3 separate regions of the Homo sapiens genome follow, and all the other regions are linked to region 3. The links come from fine-mapping of genetic effects on gene expression. A gene starts in region 3. Each other region holds a variant in brackets. All regions are shown on one strand. Distances are from middle to middle. Region 1 holds the start of S100P (S100 calcium binding protein P). Region 2 has its middle 7.4 kb from the start of MRFAP1. Region 3 holds the start of MRFAP1L2 (Morf4 family associated protein 1 like 2).

Region 1 (8,000 bases), 21 kb before region 3:
TCTACACTTTGGGAGGCTGAGTTGGGAGGATCATTTGAGCCCAGGAGTTCAAGACCAACCTGGGCAATATAGCAAAACCCCGTCTCTACAAAAAATTAGCCAGCCGCGATGGTGCGTTCTTGTGGTCCCAGCTACTTGGGAGGCTGAGGCAGGAAGATTGCTTCAGCCCAGGAGTTTAAGATTGCAGTGAGCCTCGAGACCATCCTGGCTAAAATGGTGAAACCCTGTCTCTACTAAAAATTACAAAAAATTAGCCAGGCTTGGTAGCAGGCACCTGTAGTCCCAGCTACTCGGGAGGCTGAGGCAGGAGAATGGCGTGAACCCGGGAGGTGGAGCTTGCAGTGAGCTGAGATCACACCACTGCACTCCAGCCTGGCCGACAGAGCAAGACTCCGTCTCAAAAAAAAAAAAAAGATTGCAGTGAGCCACGATAGCACCACTGCATTCCAGACTGGGTGACAGGGCAAGGCCGTCTCTCAAAGGAAAAAAGAAACAAAGATTTCCATTCTGGCAGTCCACCCCTTTTGTTTCCCCCATTATTAACTTTACTTCTCCCTCATTATTAGTTTTTACTTTATTTAAATGTGTGTATCTGCTCCCATCTAACCTAACACGACTCTCTCTCTAGCAAAAATATTTGCAATCTGCAGTCCCTTCCCCAAAGAGGGATCCACCCAAGCCTCGTATTGTTGTGTCCACCTCCAAGTTCAGGATCTTTTGGTGATAGATCTTCTCTAGTGAAAATGTCTTCAAACATAGCAAGAGGCTTTAAATACTGGGTATCCAAAAAATGATAGGGGTCCTAAAACCAGATCCAGTTACCTACCTATCATCCAAGACCTCGCTTGAGTCCTTTTGGGTGCTCCCAACATTAGTGTCGTAAAACTAAATACAGGTGATGTGAGCAGTTGTTCACTGATGATTCTAATGCTCTCTTGGAATTCATTGTTTCTCTGTTATGGTGTTTCATAGTCTTTGTGGCAAAAATAGCATTGCATCATTAAAAGTATGTTACTGTCTGGGCGTGGTGGCTGAAGCCTGTAATCCCAGCACTTTGGGAGGCCGAGGTGGGTGGATCACGAGCTCAGGAGATCGAGACCATCCTGGCTAACACGGTGAAACCCTGTCTCTACTAAAAATACAAAAAATTAGCCGGGCGTGGTGGTGGGCACCTGTAGTCCCAGCTACTCAGGAGGTTGAGGCAGGAGAATGGCGTGAACCTGGGAGGCGGAGCTGGCAGTGAGCCAAGATCGCACCATTGCACTCCAGCCTGGGCAACACAGTGAGACTCCGTCTCAAAAAAAAAAAAAAAGAAAAAAAGATATGTTACTTTGCGAGGCGCAGTGGCTCACACCTGTAATCCCAGCACTTTGGGAGGTTGAGGTGGGCAGATCACCTGAAATCAGGAGTTCGAGACCAGCCTGGCCAACATGGTGACACCCCGTCTCTACTAAAAATACAAAAAGTAGCCAGGTGTGGTTTTGCGGGTGCCTGCAGTCCCAGGTACTCGGGAGGCTGAGGCAGGAGAATCACTTGAACCCAAGAGGCGGAGGTTGCAGTGAGCTGAGATGGCGCCATTGCATTCCAGCCTGGGTGACAAGAGCGAGACTCCGTCTCAAAAATAAATAAATATTAGAAGTATGTTACTTGAAGAAAACATGCTGTTTGGAGAGATGGAGGGGCCCAGGTTCAATGAGTGGCTACGTGACCGACTAAATGAATTACGAAGTAGATGAATAAATACATGGATGTGTGTACCCGAGCCTCCCTTGGGTCCAGGACATGGTGGCATTCACACGGCCAAAGGTGGGACTGTGTCTCAGTGGGCACTCAGAAGATGGCCAACAAATGGATTTTTATCGACTGCCTTGTCTTCTTCATCTGTCTCACCACTGCAGGCAGGCAATGAGTAATGAAATGACAAGTTTAATTAGTGAATTCTGTTTTGTGGGGAGAGGACACTGAGGTTTTAAGGAAATAACCAGTTTCTCTGAGACCAGGATCATTTCATAAGCATTTATTAATCAGAGGTACATGAGCAGGCTCAGCCTAGGGGAATAATTGCCAACAAACACTTTTGGGAAGCCTGGGACCATGGCTCTGCCAGGAATCTGTGACATCTCCAGGGCATCATTTGAGTCCTGCCTTCTCAAAGTACTTGTGACAGGCAGACGTGATTGCAGCCACGAACACTATGAACTCACTGAAGTCCACCTGGGCATCTCCATTGGCGTCCAGGTCCTTGAGCAATTTATCCACGGCATCCTTGTCTTTTCCACTCTAGAGGAGAGAGAGGCTCAAGGTCAGCAGTGAGGGTGCCTGTGCAGGGCCTCAGCCTCCACCAAGCACTGCTGCTGGGCAGGAGCAGGGCACCCACATCTGCGTCACCTTTGCTGTCAGGGCCAGGGCCAGCTGTGCATAGCAGACACATGGCATTCCTGGCCTTAAGAACTTGTGAGCTGCCTTCAGCTATCTGGCATGACATGAACTAACTTGTAATGTTTTTAGAGCGAATTGGAATTGTGCTCTGCGAGAGGGAGTTTCATTTTGAGTTTTTGCCGGGGGTTGTCTTTGGATTTGTAAAGTGCTTTACAGTGATGGTTGTTCTCAGGAAATGCATCCAGTCTTTGCTCTATTTTTTGTGCACTGCTAACTTCATGGGCCTCCCATCTCGTGCTGGCACTGAACTAGCTGCTTACACAAACAGGAACTCCTCAACACCACCAGACACGGCAGAGGCATCGCCCTGTTACAGATGAAGATGATAAGGCCCAGAGGGCCCAAGGGACCTGCCCTGAAGTCACACAGGGAGCCGGGGAAAGCCAGGGTTGAGCCCCAGGTGTGGAGCGAGCATGGAGCAAGCACCCTGAGCCCTGTTCTTCCTCTCTGCTTGGGTCCCAAGCTCTCAGGTCTTCTTTGAGAAGGCCAGGCCGGCAGGGCTCTCAGAGCCTGCCCATGTGATAGCAAAGCGTTCTCACTGTGGGACCAAGCGGGACCAGGATGCAGATCTGAACAGCAGCAGCAGGGTGTGCTGATGACCCAGCCCTGGGCCAGAGAGCTGTGTGTCCAGGTGGAAAGAAACACAATTAAAATTGGTAGAAACATATCATCTGACCAAGACACAACTGTGTGCATGAAGACCTTAGTGACAGCATGGTTTGCAATAGCAAAAGTAAGGCAGGGAAGTACAAATTCAATAGCAAACAAATAGTGGTATGGCCATGTCACAATACCCTGCGGCCATTTCAAGTGATGTTTACAAAGTTTGTAGGCAGACAGTCACCTCGTATTTACAAAGCTCCGACTGTGCGGGGCGCTGGGTTGGGCACGGAGCAGATAGGGCCAGAAGGCCAGCCCAGCCCAGCCCTGCCCTCAGGCGGACATTGTTCTCTGACTCCGGCTTTGCTGGGCTTCAGCAGCCTCCGGAGGGAGGGCTGAGAAGGGCACCCAGGGCCTCCCCGAGGTGATTCTAATGTAACACATTAGCTGGACCCCCAGCTTTGCCATTGCTTCTCAAAGTGTGTTCCCAGGACACCTGTGCCTGCCCCTCCCCACACCCCAGTATCTTGGATCAAAGTCCTCATGGGTTCAATTCTCATACTTTGATCATTATCAGAACACCCCGAGCCCCAAGCCCAAGTTCCCAGGATGGGGCTGGGGTGTTTAATGAACATCAGAGTTTGAGAATTTATGTTGTAATGTTAAGCTCAAAAAGAAATTACATTGCATGTAAATCTCACTCACAGCAATGTTCATATGGGGAAAAGGCTGGAAGGGAGAGGAAGCGTCTGTATTCCAGGGGGGATTTCTTCCCTCCATATTTATCTATTTTTACATTTTCTACCAAAAACAGAACTTTATTTTTAAAAGATATCTTTACAGAATTCACATTTAGAAAATAGAACTAGGCCAGGTGTCGGGGCTCACGCCTGTAATCACAGCACTTTGAGATGTCGAGGCTGACGCATTGCCTGAGCACAGGAGTTTGAGACCAGCCTGGGCAACATGGTGAGACCTTGTCTCTAAAAAAAATACAAAAATTAACCGGGTATGGTGACATGCACCTGTAGTCCCAGCTACTCGGTAGGCTGAGGTGGGAGGATCACCTGAGCCCAGGGAGGTCGAGGCTGCAGTGAGCCGTGATCCTGCCACTGCACTCCAGCCTGGGTGACAGAGTGACATCTTGTCTCAAAAAAAAAAAAAAAGAAAAGAAAAGAAAATAGAAGCAATATTCTGAAGTGTTTCATGTCTTTGAAGTGATTCTAGGGCTGAAAATTTCAGGCTTTCATTTTTGATTATCAGCATCTATGTGGGTTAGCCCCTTAGCAGGTAGGCAGAGTCTGGTGGGGCCCGAAGGGGAGGGGAAGGAAGGAAG[A/G]AAGTGGGGGAGTGAGAAAGAAGGAGAGGACAGGGGTCAAAGGGAAGGGGAAATGGAGAGGGTACGGCTTCTGTTCAGCCCAGCCGGAGGCTGCCCCGGGCGGAAGGAAGCTGGTCCTGGCCGCCCTGAGGGGCCTTCTGTGAGGCTCAGGCCGGTGGCTCCTCCCTGGCAGGGAGCCCAAGGGAGGTCCACAGCTCTGCGCAGACAGGTGCCAGGATGGAGCCTCCTCCCGTCCTTCCTGCCAGACCCACTAATACCAGGCAACAAGGGGCCTGGGAATGGGAGCAGGGAAAGCGGGCAAGTGGGAGGCAGAGCTGGGGCGTTTATGGCCGGCAGCCTTGGAGGACAGCCCCGAGGGCTCAAGGGCTTGGCAAGCTTGGCAAACTTGCAAATGGCAGCCCTGGATTGCATTCCGCCCCTGCCCCCACTGCACAGGTTTGAGTCCCACTCTCCCACCAGGCCTGTCACAAATACACTGGGGTCAACCCCATGTTTCAAGGATCAAGCTGACCACACCCTCTCCCTGCTCAGATGCTCCCGCCTCCCCTGCCTTTATGCCAGGGTGGGTCCGTTCCTTGGCTGGGCTTCCAGGGCATTTCAGGATCTGTCCCTCTTGCCTCTGAGCCCCTTGACCGCCGACCCCACCGCAGCTCTCAGCCCTCTGCCTGCCACGCCTTCCCCTTCTTCCCCAGCCCCCGCTGAGTCCAGCACTGCCGGCCTGGCTCACCTGCAGGAAGCCTGGTAGCTCCTTCTCCATCAGCACCTTGAGCTCCCCCTTGGTCAGGGTCTGCGTGCTGCCCTCGCTGCCCGAATATCGGGAAAAGACGTCTATGATCATGCCCATGGCTGTCTCTAGTTCCGTCATGGTGCTAGATTCAGACCCACCTTCCTCCTGGGGGCTGGCAGGGCCGAGAAAATGTCCCACTGGCAGCCTCTTGGTGCTTTATAAGGCAGCCTCATATTGACACAGAGGGTGGGACAGTGGGGTTGGGACATTCAGGAAGTCCTGCCCCTCCCCATTCATGTGCTCAGTTCTGATGAAATGCATCGTTGTGATGACGTTTCTGGAACCTTTCCCCCAGCCAAGGCCCAGGGTGTGGGCTGCCTCCAGGCATCCACATTTTACAGTGTTCACCTGTGTCTCGGCGCCATCACTGAGCCACAGTGGCATCCTCATTCCTGGCCCTCCCTGGGTAAGTGGGCACGGGGTGAGTGTGTGTGGAGTGAGTGGTGACTCCGTGGCCCTTTGTGTCAATATCAGAGCGTGCTGGCACCCAGCGTGCTGACACGAGGAGACATCTGAGAGTGAATTCACATGGGCGTGTTTGTGAACATGGATCTGCCCCATCGTCCCTTTCTTAGAGCACTCTGTGTCCTTCAGAGGCCCAGCTTCCACGTCAATCTCGCTCGCTCCTCCCCTGTGGGGCCAAACAGAAAACTCCCCTTCATCCTCTGGGAGTTTGCTGAAAATCAACGGGCAGAAGGCAGATGAATAGGAGAAGAGCATAACAGATGTATTTGATCATAGCTTATGTGGCACGGCAGCCTTCAAGATGAAGATCCAAAGATCTGGTGGAAACTATCCATAAACACAGTTCAGCGAAGTATGGAAATATGATTGGATACAAAAGTAAGGCTGGATGCTCACAGACCAAGAGGAGAGCCTGGTAGGGCCTGTTGAGTCAGATTCCCTGGGGCCTCTCTGAGCAGCTCTCCTTCCTTCTAGGTGTGGGGCAGGACTCTTTCTGGAATGGAGCTCTTATGACCTACAGTCAAATAAAGCAGGCCAGAGGGTTTCTTTAGGCTGGTTTCTACACAGAAAGGGGAGGGAGTGGAGAACTGGAGTCATATTTCTGGGTTTTATGGCAGGGTTTGGGGAAGCCTCTCAGAGGAGGAGGAGCTGGAGACAGGAGGGTGGGAGCAGGACAGAGAAACTTTTGTTTCTGAGGCTTCCACGTTGGGGTGTTGTTTTTTGAGCCCCGGCACTTACCAAACCCAAATCACCCACAGGGCTTAGACGGCACAAAGGCTCCTGGGACTCTGGGCAGAGTCAGGGACAGTCACACCCCTCCCCGTCTCTATAGCGGAGGTACTCAGAGGGTCTGTGCTTGGGAGGCTGAGCGAGTCCTGGAGAGCATGGAGGTAGGGGCCTGTGTTCACATCCTGCCCCGGTCAAAGTAGGCCCACACTCAAAGGCCTCTCTCTCAGCAGAGATCTTCCAGAGTGTCAGCCTCCAGCAAGTTCCCTAACCTCTCCCAACACAGCCTCCACCAGCACATGGGCCGAGACTCTCCCCACGGGGCTGTGGCTCAACATAGAAAAACCTTGGTGCACGATGGCAGCAGCAGGTCTCACAAGAGCCGGCTTTCTCAGAACACACTGCCTCTGCCCAGGTGTCCTGCAGTGGAGGCTCAGACTGGCCCCACTGGTGACCCCTTGGGGAGCAGGGACAGGTCCATTCTGCTCACTCCTGAGCTGGGCAGTTCCCTCTTGGGATAAGGTCGCACAGCACAGGCCACCATCATACCACCCCAGCCAGAGAAGTGGGAGAGAGAAGGAGGCTCCCTACCCCAGAGGCAGTGCTCCTCAGGAAGGGCATTCACTGCGTTATATAGATATATATATACACACACACACACACACATATATATACACATATATACACATATATGTATACACACATATATACACACACACATATATACACACACACATATGTATATACACACACATATATATATAGATATACACACACATATATTTTTTGTTTGTTTGTTTGTTTGTTTGCGATGGAGTCTCACTCTGTTGCCCAGGCTGGAGTGCAGTGGTGTGATCTCGGCTCACTGCAACTTCCACTTCCCGGTTTCAAGTGATTCTCCAGCCTCAGCCTCCCGAGTAGCTGGGACTACAGGCATGTACCACCACACCAGGCTAATTTTTTGGGGGTTTCACCATGTTGGCCAGTCCGGTCATCACTTTGTTTTAAAATTTTTATTTATTTATTTATTTTTATTTATTTTTTGAGACGGAGTCTCGCTCTATCACCCAGGCTGGAGTGCAGTGGCACGATCTTGGCTCACTGCAACCCCTGCCTCCTGGTTCAAGTGATTCTCCTGCTTCAGCCTCCTGAGTAGCTGGGATTATAGGCATGCACCACCTTGTCTAGCTAATTTTTGTATTTTTAGTAAAGATGGGGTTTTACCATGTTGGCCAGGCTGGTCTTGAACTCCTAACCTCAAGTGATCTGCCCACCTCGGCCTCCCAAAGTGCTGGAATTACAGGCATGAGCCACCGTGCCTGGCCCCATTTATTTACTTTTAGAGACAGTGTCTTGCTTTCTCACCCAGGGTGGAGTGCAGTGGCTCAATCACAGCTCACTATAGCCTCCAACTCCTGGGCTTAAGTGATCCTCTCACCTCAGCCTCTCCAGTAGCTGGGACTACAGGGGCGCTCCACCATGCCCGACTATTCACTTTAATCTTTCACCGCTGTGGGAGGAAGGATCAGGACATCCATCGGGTGGAAACTGCTGCACTCCCCCACCCGTTCAGGCCACTGGAGTGTCACCAAACCACCAGGGCTGCCCCTGCTGGAGTAGCTCACCTGGGTAACTCTGAGGACAAGC
Region 2 (8,344 bases), 26 kb after region 3:
TGGTGAGATCTTGGCTCACTGCAATTTCCACCTCCCGGGTTCAAGCGATTCCCCTGCCTCAGCCTCCCAAGTAGCTGGGACTACAGGCATGTGCCACCATGCCCAGCTAATTTTTTGTATCTTAGTAGAGACGGAGTTTCACCACGTTGGCCAGGATGGTCTTGATCTGCTGACCTCGTGATCCGCCCGCCTCGGCCTCCCAAAGTGCTGGGATTACAGGCGTGAGCTACCGCGGTGGGCCCATGCTGACTGTTTTATCCATTCTTTCTGGGTTGCTGTGTAACGTGTGTCAGGTATCGTATGTCCATATTTGCTCATATCTGTATCTGGGCTGTATACTCTGTTCCACTGGTCTTTACCTATCTCTGGGCCATTACTCCATTGACTTAATTACTGTTAGCTTTATAATAAATATTAATATTTGGTAAAGTATAGCAAGGCCTCCCATCTGGTGCTACTGCAGGAATATCCTGGCTTTCTGCTTGTCCATCTAAATTTCAAATTTGTGAGTTCCCTGTGCTCCTCCCCACACCCACCAGACTCAAGAGATCTCCTGCCTCAGCCTCCAGAGTAGCTGGAATTACAGGTATTTGCCACCACATGCAGCTAATTTTTAAATTTTTTGTAGAGACTAGGTTTTGCCATGTTGCCCAGGCTGATCTTGAACTCCTGGGCTCAAGTGATATGCCTGCCTCCACCTCCCAAAGTGCTGGGATTACAAGTGTGAGCCATTATGCCCAGCCAAATTCATGGTTTTTATTTTTATTTTAGTTTTAGAGACAGGGCCTTGCTCTGTTGCCCAGGCTGGAGTGCAGTAGTGCAATCATAGCTCACTCCAGCCTGGAACTCCCAGGCTCAAGCAATCCTCCTGCCTCAGCCTCCTGAGTAGTTGGGACTACAGGCATGCACCACCACACACAGCTAATTTTTTTTTTTTTTTTGGTAGAGATGGGGTCTTACTATGTAGCCTAGGCTGGGTTTGAATTTTTGGCCTCAAGTGATCTTCCTGCCTTGGCCTCCCAACATGCTGGGATTACAGGCATGAGCCACTGTACTCAGCCCTCAAATTAATTTTTTTTGTAAATTCAACCCAAACAATCAAAACAGACCCATCTGAAGAGATTTTTATTGGGACTGCCTTGATTTGTGGGAGCAGTTTGGAGAATAATTATGATACTAATTTTCTTAATCTATTTTGTCATTATTTAATGTATTTCAACATAATTTTATGCATAATGGTTTTTCACATATTAAAAATTTAATATATACGAATATATATTTTCCAACCATTTGTACTGGGTTGAATAATGTCCCTGCAAAATTTTTCTGCCCAGAACCTTAGAATGTGACTTTATTGAAAATAGGTTCTTTGCAGACCTAGTTAAGATGAGGTTAGACTGGATGAGAGCGGGCTCTAAATGCAATGACTGGTGTCCTTCCATGAAGACAAAGGGAAGAAGGCCATGGGATAATGGAGGCAGACTGGACTGACGCAGCCACAAGCCAAGGAATGCCAAGAATTGCTGACAATTACCAGAAGCCAGGGAGAAGCAAGGAAAGATTCTTGCCCAGATGGTTCAGAGAGCCCATGGCCCTGCCAACACCTTAATTTTAGACTCCAGAACTATGAAAAAACAAATTTCTGTTTTAAGCCACTTAATTTGTGGCAGTTTGTTATGGTATCCCAAGGAAACACACCATTAAAAAAAAGTTTTTGGGTTCTATTATCAGTGGTACCTTTCAGAAAATATATTTCCTCTTCGTTCCCGGTAAAGAGAAACACTACTGATTTTTATTGATTTTTGTGTCTAGAAACCTTGAAACTCTAGAAACTATTATTAATGTTGGCAGTTTAGATTCTTTTGAATCTATGATGTCTCAGAGACATCATATCATGGGAATATAACTGATGCAGGACAAATTGGGGCTTAGCCTGGGAGGGTTCTTGGCTTCCTCCAGGAAGGAATTCAAGGGTGAGCCAGTGGTGGTAGACAGCAAGAGTTATTGATGCAGCAGTGCACAGTAGCAGCACAGGTGGTGTGCTCATAGGCAGTGAGCCCAGAGGAGCTGCTCAGGGCAGTTCTGCAGTCATATTTATGCCCACTTTTAATTACATGCAAATTAAGGGGTAGATGCCAGGTGCGGTGGCTCATGCTTGTAATCCCAGCATTTTGGGAGGCTGAGGTGGGTGGATTGCTTGAGATCAGGAGTTTGAGACCATCCTGGCCAACATGGTGAAACCCTGTCTCTACTGAAATACAAAAATTAGCTGGGTGTGAGGTGGCTCATGCCTATAATCCCAGCTACTAGGGAGGCTGAGGCAGGAGAATTGCTTGAACCCAGGAAGTGGAGGTTGCAGTGAACTGAGATCGTGCCACTGCACTCCAGCTTGGGTGACAGAGGGAGACTCTGTCTCAAAAAATAAAAAAAAAGTCTGGGTGTGGTGGCTCACTCCTGAAATCCCAGCGCTTTGGGAGGCTGAGGTGGGCAGATCATGAGGTCAGAGTTCGAGACCAGACTGGCCAACATAGTGAAACCCCGTTTCTACTAAAAATACAAAAAAATTAGCTGGACATGGTGGCAGGCACCTATAATCCTAGTTACTTGGGAGGCTGAGGCAGGAGAATCGCTCGAACCTGGTTGGCGGAGGTTGCAGTGAGCCGAGATCGCGTCACTGCACGCTAGCCTGGGCGACAGTGCAAGACTCTGTCTCAATAAAAAGAAAAAATAAATAAAGTAATACACTAAAAAAATTAAGGGGTAGATTATGCAGAAAGTTCTAGAAAAGAGGTGGTAACTTCTGTGTCATTGGGTCATCGCCATGGAAAGCGGCTGTAACTTCTGGGGGTTGCCATGGCAATGGTAAACTGATGGCACTGGTGGGCGTGTCTCATGGAGAGGCTTCCAACTCTTCCTTGTTTCAGCTAGTCTCAGTCTGGTCTGGAGTCTAAACCCTGCCTCCAGAGTCGAGTCCCGCCCCCTACCTCATAACGACAATAGTGGTGGTGGTTTTAAAAATACGTCCACATGATAAAAAGGAATTTGAAAAGATTAAAAAAATATGTCCACAATCTTCTTGCTACTCATCTCTTCAGTAGGTGGAGCATAATTCTTCTCTCCTGGAGTATGGGCTGGCTTGCTTCTAACACACAGAATAGGGAGGAAAAGGGAGGAATGGGAAATACATGGTGCCTATGGCCTTTGGGGATCATCAAAGGTCTTGCTCTCTAGCAGAAACTATTTTGCCTCCTTCCCTCTAGGTCCCTGGCTTTTGCCTCAGGGAGACTTTATTATCTATTATCTTCTCAGGCCTTGTATGAAATGTGCCTCAGAGGTTGCCCCCTCCAGGGGCTTTGCAGTTTCTGAAGCCTTCTTCATGCTGGTGCAGGTGCTGGGGCTCAGCACTTCCTTCAGGGGCTGAACAACCCCAAGTTTTAGCAGACTCACCTTGGAATTTCTTTGGCCATATATTTCCTTCAAAACCTTCGGATGACTTTGGGAGACTGAGGCAGGAGGATTGCTTGAGCCCAGGAGTCTGAGACCAGCCTGGGCAACGTAGGGAAACCGTATCTCTCTAAAAAATAAAAATAAAAAAATTAGCCAGGTGAGGTGGTACATGCCTGTGGTCCCAGCTACTGGAGAGGCTGAGGCAGGAGGATCGCTTGAGCCTGGGTGGTTAAGGCTGCAGTGAGCTGTGATCAGACCACTGCACTCCAGCTTGGGCAAAGCAAGACCCCATGTCTCAAAAAAACAAAAGGAAAACAAGAAATAAAAACACAAACAAGGGGGCCGGGCGCGGTGGTTCATGCCTGTAATCCCAGCACTTTGGGAGGCCGAGGCAGGCGGATCACGAGGTCAGGAGATCAAGACCATCTTGGCTAACATGGTGAAACCCCTTCTCTACTAAAATTACAAAAAATTAGCCGGGCGTGGTGGCGGCTGCCTGTAGTCCCAGCTACTCGGGAGGCTGAGGCAGGAGAACGGTGTGAACCCGGGAGGCAGAGCTTGCAGTGAGCCGAGATCATGCCACTGCACTCCAGCCTGGGCGACAATGCGAGACTCCATCTCAAAAAAAAAAAACAAACAAAAAAAACACCACAAACAAGACCCGCTCAGATGCTTCCTGCCTGTTTGCTGTCAGCCAGCCCCAATGTGCAGGCAGCCACAGCCCAAATCTTGTGAAGATGCCGGCATTTTCCTCACTGCGCTCTGTCCTTCCCCTGCTTTCCCAGTGGTGTCCCTGTGGAGCCAGTGTCCTTGACAGGAAGGTGACAGTCATCAGCTGGTGTTTGCCCACGTGACTGGCACTCACTTTCTGAGGAAGGACCTTTACTGAAGATGCTTGAGAAAGGTTTGGGGCCTCAGTCTCATTTCCCTGTAAGATGGCTTCTTTTGGAGCCATCTCCCGTAACTCTTTGGGTTTGGGATGCAGAACCCCTTTCCTGTGAGGCCCCAAATGACCAGCAGTGGTGCCTCTCCAAGCTCATTCATAGAAGCTACTGCAGGAAGCACAGTTGAGTGACAGTCTCCAACTGCCACATCTTTGCCTCCATAGCGATCACACCAAGGCCATGCCTGTCCTCCCTCAAAGAGACTAAATTCAGGACTAAACTTACTAGCCTGTCACTGCTGTTTCTCCCATTGATGAACCAAGGAGAACTCAGCCTAGGACAAGTTTCCAGTGATGTTCTCCACTCCTCTTCACCCCCAAACCTGTTCCTGGGCCTCCAGCATGTGCCTGACTTCTTGGAGGAGCTCTGCCCTCCCCCGACCTTACCCCTGAGAATAGTGCTATTTCATCCTCAGGCCTGTGAGGGAAAAGCCACTCATTTCTATATGTCCCTCGTGTGTCAATCAGAATTTGGGGGCAGTGTTCTCCCAGGCCATGTCCACACTCTACTTCTCCTCCCTC[T/G]TGTCCAAAATGGTGCTCCTTGGGAGCACTCCCTGGTCATCTGACTGTCCTCTCCCTCTTCTCACCTCTGTCATCCTCCAATCTCTTTTCACCCCATTGGAGTCCCGTCATTCACTGCAAACTTGGGCACCTGGCTCCTGGCCTTCCCCTCCACCCCAAGCCCTGCCATCGTCCTGAGCGAATTCCATGCTCACACAGCCACCAGCCCCACACCTGGGCCCTCATATCCAAGGAGCTCCTCCACCCTGCTTGGCCATTCACTCCCAAGAGTGACTTGGGGCTTGTTATTGTCTCAGACCTGGCCTACTTAATATCTCTGTGCCTCATTGATAAGACGAGACTAATTTTAATAATGGCATCTGCCCCACTGAGGGGTCGTGAAAGGCTTTTGAGGAATTGTAGGTAACTGGCACATAGTAAATGCTTCACAGGTGTTAAAACAAGAATTGATCTGAGGCCCCAGAAGCACGTAGCTCGCAGGATGTCATCCACAGATACATTTTATTTGACAATCAGAGTTTTTAATATGATAAATTGCTTTCCAATATCAGCCCTCCTATTTTCTGGCCACATCCCATCCTCCAGGTGACACTTTCACTGTAGTCACTAACATGCTGGGATCTCCATTCACTTTACCAGCTACTTTCGCCTATTGCTCTCCTGCTCTTCACCTCCATACTTCCCCACTCAGAGTACATCATGTATTGTTGCAGTGATGTCCTTGTCAAAACCCTAAGCTCTTTTTTTCTTTTTTCACTCCTCTCTGGCAAAAATGCAGTCCTGATGAACGCAGTATCTGCCCCAGGCAGTGGGCAAGTGCTGTAAGGAACCATCACCAACAAGGCTACAGGGAAGCCCAGGGCTTGGGGAAAATCTAGTTTCAGCTGTTAAGAGTTGGTAAAGAAATGTTCTTTGAAGAGGCAAAGAATAATATGGATTAATTTGGGAATAATGGAATGCAGGATTTTGTGAACCATGGTATAGAGTTTGAAGGAGGAAGCAATGGGGATATAAACCAGTAAATAGGTACCACAGAACATTATGGAAATCAGAGACGGGGAAAAGAGAATTGACTCAGAGAGGGTCTAACATATGCTGGGCTGTGTATTAGTCTGTTCTCATGCTGCTATGAAGAAATACCCGAGACTGATAATTTATAAAGGAAAGAGGTTTAATTGACTCCCAGTTCCACATGGCTGGGGAGGCCTCAGGAAACTTACAATCATGGCAGAAGGGGAAGCAAACCTGTCCTTCTTCGTATGGCGGCAGGAAGGAGAAGTGCAGAGCAAAGGGGAAAAAGCCCCTTGTAAAACCATCAGATCTCGTGGAAACTCACTATCACAAGAACAGTATGGGGGTAACCACCCCATGATTCAGTGACCTCCCACCGGGTCACTCCCAGGACAAGATGAGATTTGGGTGGGGACACAGCCAAACCATATCAGGCAGTGACTGAAGCAGGCACTGGATGGATTTTGTAGATTTACCTGGCCACAGTGTTAACCAGGGTAATAAATCCCCATTTATCTCTGGAAGATGGTAGAAACTCAAGCCACTCCATGTTTACCTGCTGCCTGGAAGGGGGAGAATGGCCAGGAGTAGGAGTTTGAACTAGCGCTTTCTTTCACCTTGAAGTCATTAGAAGGCAGAGGAAAGTCAAGAGCTCCACGTGAAAGCCAGAGACAGAAGATAACCTGTTGGACAATGCCTGGGCTAGTGGGAGGGATGTGATCAACGGGCCTCAGGTAGAAGGGAGAACAACCCTTTCATCAAAACACAAGGAATGGAAGAAATAATGAATATCTGTATCAGTCATCTTAGTCTAAGTTGTTATTGTAACAAACAATCCCCAAATCTCAGTGGCTTAAAACAACTAAGGTTTTTCCTTGTTTGTGGTATATACTCATCATAGATTGGTAGGGAACTGTGGTCATTAAGCTCAGCCACCATCTGGAATGTTGCTGGTTCCTGTGCCAGAGGGAAGAGACAGCTCTGCAGGGTGTTGCTTTGGAGGTTCTGGGTTGGATGCAACAGATGTAAGTTTCCTTTGTAGCTCATCGGCCAGAATTAATCACGTGGGCCCACCCAACCCCAAGGGGGCCAGAAAGTGCCATCTTACTCTGTGCCTAGAAGGCAGAGAATTGGAATTTATTTGGTGAACAGCACTAATGACTTCTACATTTTAACCCAGAAAAGCTTCATTGCTCTCTGAGGTTATTTCCAGCTCTGCCATCCTGTAATACCAGGACTTTGGGAGGCCAAGGCAGGTGGATCACTTGAGGCCAGGAATTCAAGACCAGCCTGGCCAACATAGTGAAACCCTGTCTCTACTAAAAATGCCAAAATTAGCAGGGCATGGTGGCACCCACATGTAACCCCAGCTACGCGGGAGGCTGAGGCAGGAGAATTGCTTGAGCCCTGGGAGGCAGAAGTTGCAGTGAGCCAAGATCATGCCACTACACTCCAGCCTGGGCAACAGAGTTAGACCCTGTCTCAATAAATAAATAAACAAATAAATAAATATGGCAACTCCAGCCAGAAAATTTAATGACTGTACAGCCACGTAAGACTGTCTCTCAGAATGCTTCTTACCACATTCTTTGCTTAGAAAATGCAAGATTGGATTGCTCCTCCAATTGCTAGCAAGCCAGGAGTATGAAATTCAGGAGCTGGGGCAATTGGGAATTAGTGGCTGCATTGCAGTTGTGACCAGAATCATAAAAAAGAGGAACTAAGGAGTTACTGGAAAGATTTTAGGACAATAGTTTTCAAACTCTGGCATAAGAATGAACACTATGCAGCCTTAAAAAAAAAAAGAATGCAGATTTAGATGTTAGATAGGAAAAGACTTCCAAGTAAACAAATGAAGGACACGAACAGATTATACAGTGTGCTACCATTAATGTAAAAAACAAAACAAAACAAACAGGTGGCCTGGGCGCAGTGGCTCATGCCTGTATTGCTAGCACTTTGGGAGGCCAAGGTGGGTGGATGGCTTGAGCTCAGGAATTTGAGACCAAAATGGCCAAGATGGCAAACAACTGTCTACAAAAAATACAAAAATTAACCGCGGTGGTGTTCCAGTTACTCAGGAGGCTAAGGTGATCACTTGAGCCCAAGAGTTCAAGACCAGCCTGGACAAATAGCGAAACCCCACCTCCACAAAAAAAAAAAAAAAAAAATACAAAAATTAGCCAGAAATGGTGGTGTATGCCTGGTCCCAGCTACCAGGGAGGCTGAGGTGGGAGGATCACCTGACACCAGGAAGTCAAGGCTGCAGTGAGTGGTCACAACACTGCATTCCAGCCTGTGAGACACAGAGACCCTGTCTCACCAAAAACAAAAAAAAGTGGAAGCCGTTCAAACACATTAGTATTTGTAAGGATGTATAAGAAACTTCTAGTTTCCTGAGAGGGGAACTGGGAAGCTGGG
Region 3 (8,000 bases):
AACATGGGACATGAGCAGAGCGGGGATGCCTGCATTCAGCCCTCCAAATCTCACTTAGCCTGAGAGACAACTTACACCTCTCGTCAGTCAGAGAGGGTCTCTCATGGAACATTCTATGAGGCCAGAAACTCAGTCCCAGGCTTGCTGCTGCAGCCCTCTCCAGAGTGGTCAGCATTCTGAACCATTGTTTCAAAAACCATCACGGGCCGGGCGCAGTGGCTCACGCCTGTAATCCCAGCACTTTGGGAGGCCGAGGCAGGTGGATCATGAGGTCAGGAGATCGAGACCATCCTGGCTAACAAGGTGAAACCCCGTCTCTACTAAAAATACAAAAAATTAGCCGGGCGCGGTGGCGGGCGCCTGTAGTCCCAGCTACTCGGGAGGCTGAGGCAGGAGAATGGCGTGAACCCGGGAAGCGGAGCTTGCAGTGAGCCGAGATTGCGCCACTGCAGTCCGCAGTCCGGCCTGGGCGACAGAGCGAGACTCCGTCTCAAAAAAAACAAAACAAAACAAACAAAAAAAACCCCATCACGACAGTTAGAGGATGCAGATGGCACATCAGGAGCTACTGATGTTGTGAAAGAGCTTTGGCATCAGTTGAATTCTTCCCGGCAAGGTTCTAGGGTTGTTTTCTGTTTTGTTTTTGGCTGAAGTTTCCCCACCTGAACAATGGGGATAATAAAATGACCTCTGATATTTGTGAAAATTAGATATGTTAAGTGCCTAATCCCAAGTGGATTCTTGTAATACAGGCTTTTGTTTTCTCATTTTCACATCCTCAGTGTCCTAACACTGGCGGGAGCTTAGGGAATTGGGCTGGGAGGTAACAGACGAGACAGGCCAGTGCAAAATGTTTCCCTTTTGGCCCCTTTGTGTGGTTTTAGACTTCTACCTACTCCTGCCATCCCACTGACATCCTATATAATGATGTTCCTCTTTACAAGTTTGCTAAAGCAAATTTAACAATCCCAGGGAAAATTTTTTTAAAAAAGGAAATGTATTTAACTGTAAGCGCGCTTGCCTTACCCGAGACACAAGACTCAAAGACAGGTCTCCCGAAGGATCCCCCATTCCCCCCGCCCCATTTCCATCCACGGGCGGCCTCTGCAGCCCACGCTGGGCCCCTGGCCTGTTTCGTGTTCCCCATGCTTGAGGTGCTGTTTGTGTAGCTGTGCCCATGCTTCCGCTCAGAGCAAGTCAGTGGGTCTGAGGGGACTCCTCCCTAAGTCCTCCCACCAGACACAGCGTAAGCACCTCTTTGCCTGTGAAAGTCCTTGTTTACATCTGCAGTCCCAGATGAATTTCTATTAATAGAGCCACCCTTCACTTTCAAAAGTGGCCCAGTTTGTTTGACAAATGGTACTAAATAGGTGCTCAGGTCCCGAGCCTCAGAGCCATTGCTGAATCCTCTCATGTCCACAGGCAGGCCCTCGGCACTTTCCCAACGCAGTCCACACCCGTCCCCATCCACACAGCGCGTGCTCCACTCTCCACGCTGCCTCCCACTCTTGTCCTGGTCCCCCACTGTCAGGCCTGAGCACAGCAGCCACCACCTCAGATGGTCAGCTCCCATCGCTCCTCTGCTGGCAACCCCCCACCAGCTTCACATCCACCCACTTCTCCCTCTGACCTCGGTGCCCACCACTTCCTCCCTTCCCACTGGGGTTTCATGCTGCCTCACCTTTTTACCCTACTTGTTCCCCGTGCCTAGAAGACTCTTTCCCCAGACACCCATGCACATTCCACACATCAGCCTTCACTCAAATGTCATATCAGACATGTTACCTGACCATGCAAATCAACTAGAAATCCCACACCCTATCCCCCAATGCCATTTTTTTCCCCCACAGAACTTACACTATTTAATATGGGTACATATCATTTTTTTCCTGCTTCCCTCATTTAGGGGTTATCTAACAAATACTTAGGAAACACTTACTATAGCCAGACACAATTCTAAGCATCTTATGAATAACAAATCCAACTTTTTTTTTCTATTAGAGACAGGGTCTCACCATGTTGCCCAGGCTGATCTCAAACTCCTGGCCTCAAGCAATCCTCCTGCTCAGGCCTCCTAAAGAAATGGGATTACAGGCATGAGCTACCATGCCTGGCCCTCAGATCCAATTTTACAAGCACTTTGTTCACTCAGGTAGTCTCAGCATCTGTAGGTGCTCAATTTATGCGTTGAATCAAAGACCAGCATTGCGGACACTGTACTGTAATTGTGTTTTCAGACCTGTCTCAACCCACTAGATCGTCTCTCCAAGAAATTCCTAGTGCCTGGCATAGTGTGGAGCTCTGTGGTCACAGTGAACACTAGCTGCCTGAATGGACTTCACCTCTCCAAAGGCTGGGGCCAGACCATATGGCTTCATGAGGCACCCCTTTCCTACTCTAGGTCTGCCTTCTTCTTCTTCTGCAGCTCAAACCCCACCCTGGGCTACAGGCTTTGAACAACTCGTGAGTCAGAAGCAATTCTCCTCCATTTGACAGTGACCACTATCAAGGAGAAACTCATTTTGAAAAATGTTTATTTACCTTACCTTTTCTTGGCCAAGTCAATTGCTTTGGTCATCTGCACAAAGATTCTAAACACTGGCTTTCAGCATTTCTTTTTCCAAGCAAATGAAATTTATCATAACAAGACAGAGCTCTGATTTTAGTCTCTGTGGAGTCTGGGCTCTGATGACCTAGGCTAGTCATCATCTAAGCCTGGAATGACTGTTTGGGACCCCCATGGCCAGCTTGAAGCTTTCCTTCCTCAGCCACTCTGGGCCCCTGAAGAGGTCACATGCATCTGTGGCAGAGACTGTATTATAACAAAGTTGTTTACCCCAAAGTCAGCAAACACATGTACCTAGAACTCATCCCAATTGTAGGTTGCTCACCAGACAGGTTACACGATGTGCACCAGTTAACATGCCATAGGAAAATTACATTCCAAGAAAAAGCAAAATGCTATAAAAACAAAAAAAACAAAACACCCAAAACAGCTCTCCCTCCTTTGATCTGATGGTCTGCAGAGGTCCTCAAATCCACACACTGCCACTCTTCAAGACCAACCGTCCACTGGGCCTTCTTAATCTCATCCAAAGTCGCATTCACAACTTTGACAGGAGCTTGGGTTCTTCATGTGGCAGCTGCAACCATGTAGTGTCTTCTCACTTGCAGAACTCTAACCTCAAGTCTCTCATGAGTCCCCAAATTCCAGGAAGCATAAAAAAACAGCAAAGCACACGAGTATACTTCCAAACTTTGAAAATACAATAAGATCACAGGAACAAATATGACCACGCAGCAGCGTACGTACTGTATAGGCCATATTCCTTTACGTGGGACATTAATGAAAAGCTGTCTTTTCCAAACTGAATGCGCCTATTAATAAAAAAATACACCTGACCATCTAATGCTGAAGTCATCCGCCAGGATGGTACTGGAAATTGAGTGGCTAATGTGGAGAAAACGCAGGCAGAAAAACAGGGGAGACAAAACGAAAGGCTCTCTTGGTTTGAGCCTGTCCAAGCAGCCACGACTCCTTATCAGGTGAACACAGTTCGTCAGTTGGCCACCTAAAGTACAAGTGGGAGAAATTCATCATCACAACATAAATTTTGAGCTTGATATTCTCATATCCGGGAGTCAAACAAACCCAACCACCTGTGCACAATGCTTCCACCTGCAGGAAGGTCATCGCAAACGCTCCAATCTCGTAACAACATTCACACGTTTCCAGCATGTACCTCCGCTTCACACCTCTCTCCCCCCACGTAGTGACCCACCAGGTCTACGTCCTGAAAATACTTCCAGTGGTCATGACTCTTTACAACAACATATCAAATTATTTTCTCTAATTACCTATGAAAAAAGAATGAAACCAACTCCGCGGAGAGCGTGGCACGGCTCTGCGCTCCCCTCCCTGCCTACCCAGCGCCTTCCACGCGGGACACTCCCCGCCGCGCTCCGCTCCAGACCCGCGCGGCCTCGCCGGCTCAGCAGCACTCGCAGCCGGCGATCCGCTGGTGCAGCTCCACGATCCGCCTGCCCATCCGCGCCGCCTCCGCAGCCTTCCTCTCTGCTTCGGCGCACAGCCGAGCCACCCGCTCCTCAGCCTCCGCACGCGGGCGGGGTGCTGGGGCCCGGGCGCCCCGCTCCTCTGCCTCCACCTCACTCTTGATGGCGTCGAGCAGGCTCTGGATCTCCAGCAGCTTCCTGCGGGCCCGCCAGTGCGCCCGGGCGCGCTCGCGCTCCAGGGAGGCCAGGTTCTCGCGGCCGGCGCGGGGCGCGGGGCTCAGCGGGCTGCCCGGCTCCTCGCGGGGCTCCCGCGCCTCGTCCGCGTCCACGGGCCGCATCACGCCGCCGCCTCTTCCAGCCCGCGGGGCACGCCGGGGCTGCTCACCAGCAGCGAGCGCGGAAGCCTCGCTGTCACCAACGACCAGACTAGCAACAGGTTGCCCCAACTTTCCGCAGCGAGGACGGTATCCAAAATGGGCTACTAGCCGTCGGCCAGGACGCTGCCACTGCGGCCCTTTTACGACACCTGCGGTCCTTTACCGCCACGCAGCAAGCGAGAACCGCATTCGGGGCTCCCGCCTCAGCGGTCCTGCGCGCGCACGCGCACTTGCACGCACGCGTACCCCCCCGCACGCATGCGCACCCCATGTCCCCGCCCGCTGTAGCGCCACAGCTCTTTGGGCGTTGATTCTAGGGTCAGGGCCCTCACTCACACTGCTGGAAGGTTAAAGTCGACTTCACGCTAGTTTAAGGAAATATCTGACGCTGATAACCATGTCCCAAGCACTGCTCTAAGTTCCCAATGTGTCCGGAATTGGTGGGTTCTTGGTCTCACTGACTTCAAGAATGAAGCCACGGACCCTCGCGGTGAGTGTTACAGCTCTTAAAGTGGCGCGTCTGGAGTTTGTTCCTTCTGATGTTCGGATGTGTTCGGAGTTTTTTCCTTCTGGTGGGTTCGTGGTCTCGCCGGCTCAGGAGTGAAACTGCAGACCTGTTACGGCTCATAAAGGCAGTGTGGACCCAAAGAGTGAGCAGCAGCAGGATTTATTGCAAAGAGAGAAAGAACAAAGCTTCCACAATAGAAGGGGACCTGAGCCGGTTGCCACTGCTGGCTCCGGCAGCCTGCTTTTATTGTCTTATCTGGCCCCACCCACATCCTGCTGATTGGTAGAGCCGAGTGGTCTGTTTTGACAGGGTGCTGATTGGTGCGTTTACAATCCCTGAGCTAGACACAAAGGTTCTCCAAGGCCCCAGCAGAGTCGATTGGTATATTCACAAACCCTGAGCTAGACACACGGTGCTGATTGGTGTATTTACAATCCCTGAGCTAGACATAAAGGTTCTCCACATCCCCACCAGACTCAGGAGCCCAGCTGGCTTCACCAAGTGGATCCCACACCAGGGCTGCAGGTGGAGCTGCCTGCGAGAACGGCACCGTGCGCCCACACTCCTCAGCCCTTGGGTGGTGATGGGACTGGGCGCCGTGGAGCAGGGGGTGGTGCTCGTCGAGGAGGCTCGGGCAGCACAGGAGCCCATGGAGGGGGTGGGAGGCTCAGGCATGGCGGGCTGCAGGTCCCGAGCCCTGCCCCTCGGAAAGGCAGCTAAGGCCCGGTGAGAAATCGAGCACAGCGCCGGTGGGCTGGCACTGCTGAGGGACCCAGTACACCCTCCGCAGCCGCTGGCCCGGGTGCTAAGCCCCTCATTGCCGGGGGCTGGCAGGGCCAGCCGGCTGCTCCGAGTGCGGGGCCCACCAAGCCCACGCCCACCCTGAACTCCAGCTGGCCCGCAAGCGCCGTGTGCAGCCCCGGTGCCCGCTCGCGCCTCTCCCTCCACACCTCCCTGCAAGCTGAGAGAGCCGGCTCTGGCCTTGGCCAGCCCAGAAAGGGGCCTCCACAGTGCAGCAGTGGGCTGAAGGGCTCCTCAAGTGCTGCCAAAGTGGGAGCCCAGGCAGAGGAGGCACCGAGAGTGAGCGAGGGCTGTGAGGACTGCCAGCACACTGTCACCTCTCACCAACATTCTAAATCATAAACACCCAGGCCGGGCGTGTGGCTCACGCCTATAATCCCAGCACTTTGGGAGGCTGAGGTGAGAGGATCGCTTGAGCTCAGGAGTTCCATACCAGCCTGGGCAACAAGGGAAAAAACCCTACCAAAAAAAACACAAGAAATTAGCTGGGCGTGGTGGCGCGTGCCGATAGTCCCAGCTACTTGAGAGGCTGAGCCGGGAAGATTGCTTGAGCCCAGCAGGTCGAGACCGAGGTGAGCTCTGAACGCCTGATTGCGCCACTGCACCCCAGCCCAGTGACAGGGCGAGACCCTGTCTCAAAATAAATAAATAAAAATAATAAACAACCGAATTCAGTGGTCCCGTTAGAATATTCCAGGCTCCGAGAAGCCAGGTGCTCACAGCGTCGGGATTTGCCCCCAGCCAGGGCCTCCGCTCCCTCTTGCCTCGGGCAGATGCTCCTGGAACACAGAGCTGCGGCCTCGGTGCTGATGCTGAGTGCTGTGACCCAGCCTCCCCCTACTTTTTTCCTAAGGGTATAAGCTTCACTCTGCCTGGGGCTTTGGCTGTAAGTTGGAGTCTGGCTTTACCCACTGTGGGCACCCAAGGCCAAGGTGGGTCTGATTCACCACTGTTTCCTCAGCCCTGCCAGGCTCTGAATATGCCTTTAGGAATCATTCTGGAAGATTTCTTTCTTCACTGGACTATATAAGTGCCTCTGCGAGAAAACAGGCCCTAGGGGCAGGTACTTAGTCAGTTTAGTCATCTGTTTCCTCAGCTTGAAATGGGCTTGGCATACAGCAGGAGCCCAGTAAATGTTGCTTTAATGCTCATTTCCCAAGAGATCTTTATTAAGCACCCACTGCATGTCATTGTGTCTAGGCTTATTCACTGTGTACCTCTAGCAGAAAGTTAAGGGGACCCTCCATGCTTGATGGCCAGAGGTCACTCTCAGCTCCTACAGGTCACTCTCCGGTCCTTAAACGTGGCCCTCTCCATCTTCAAAGCCAGTAAGAGCATGTCGGATCCTTCTTATCCTTCCAGCCTCTCTGTCATCCCCTTCTGCTCCCAGCTGGAGAAAACTCTGCTTTTAAGGGGCTTGCCATGGTCCAAATATGTGAGTCCCCCCAAAATTCATATGTTGCAAAGCAATCCCCAATGTGATGATATTAGGAGGTGGGGTCTTTGGGAGGTGATGTGGTCATGAAGGCTCAGCTTTCATGAATGAGATTAGCACCCTCATAAAACAACTCCACAGGGCCGCCTTACCCCTTCTGCTGTGGGAGGTTATAGCAAAAAGATGGGCTTCTATGAACCAGAAGTGGGCCCTCACCAGGCACCAAACCTGCTGGCACCGTGATCTTGTACTGCTCAGCCTTCAGAACTCAGAAAATACATTTCTGTTGTTTAGAAGACACCCAGTTTCTGGTATTTTGTTAGAGCAGCGTGAACGGACTAAAATAGTGCTTATGTGGTTGTGTAACAGCATCGATTCCATGTTAAAGAACAATTTTGCTTGCTCAATTATAATTATTGCTTTGCTTAAGTTTTAGACTATGCTAAAAACAGCCTCAGGACCTTCAGCACTGATCAACAATCCTGGGCATGGGCTGACCGACAGTTTTCACCCAGAGAGTGAAGATCATGGAGGAGCCATCTTAAATTCTGCCCAGCGCAGGCTCCCAGGAATCCTAATGTCACGATCTCACTGCAGCCAATGTGACAAACACAGCAGTAATTAAGTCTAGAGAGCTAAACACACCTCAAAAAGAATTGTCTCTTGGTATGAGTGGAATGGAATAAAATACATGGAAACCCACAAAAGTTTCGAGGTGAACATATTAGCAAAAATGCTCTAGCTTATCCAAGCGACAGTTCAAAGTGTCAAAGGACTTCTAGACTCCCAATCTTTCCACCGGCAGAAAGCAGGCTCAGTAGCCCAAACTGGCGCATTTTAAAATGCCCTTTTCAGAAGTGTGATG

What was found. PIP is the estimated chance that this variant, and not a neighbour inherited with it, causes the effect.
Region 1: its variant is fine-mapped to the expression of MRFAP1L2 in whole blood (TOPMed, PIP above 0.99).
Region 2: its variant is fine-mapped to the expression of MRFAP1L2 in atrial appendage (GTEx, PIP 0.95).

Annotation. Positions count from the first base shown.
Region 1 is chr4:6,691,173-6,699,172 of GRCh38, reverse strand. S100P (S100 calcium binding protein P) reads right to left here and starts at 5,295. Exons shown (of 2, transcript NM_005980.3): 1 at 5,103-5,295; 2 at 2,003-2,280. The coding sequence starts at 5,240. The coding sequence ends at 2,131. RefSeq lists enhancers at 2,327-3,089, 4,292-5,027, 5,028-5,764, 6,074-6,611. The variant A/G (reference allele first, on the strand shown) is at 4,376.
Region 2 is chr4:6,643,956-6,652,299 of GRCh38, reverse strand. No RefSeq gene overlaps it. Among named protein-coding and RNA genes, the nearest start is that of MRFAP1, 7.4 kb to the right of the region's middle. The variant T/G (reference allele first, on the strand shown) is at 4,913.
Region 3 is chr4:6,670,565-6,678,564 of GRCh38, reverse strand. MRFAP1L2 (Morf4 family associated protein 1 like 2) reads right to left here and starts at 4,490. Exons shown (of 1, transcript NM_138699.3): 1 at 2,518-4,490. The coding sequence starts at 4,352. The coding sequence ends at 3,993. It overlaps LINC02482 (long intergenic non-protein coding RNA 2482), which reads left to right and starts at 4,684. Exons shown (of 2, transcript NR_134665.1): 1 at 4,684-4,881; 2 at 7,572-7,837. RefSeq lists a silencer at 4,186-4,415 and an enhancer at 4,888-5,496.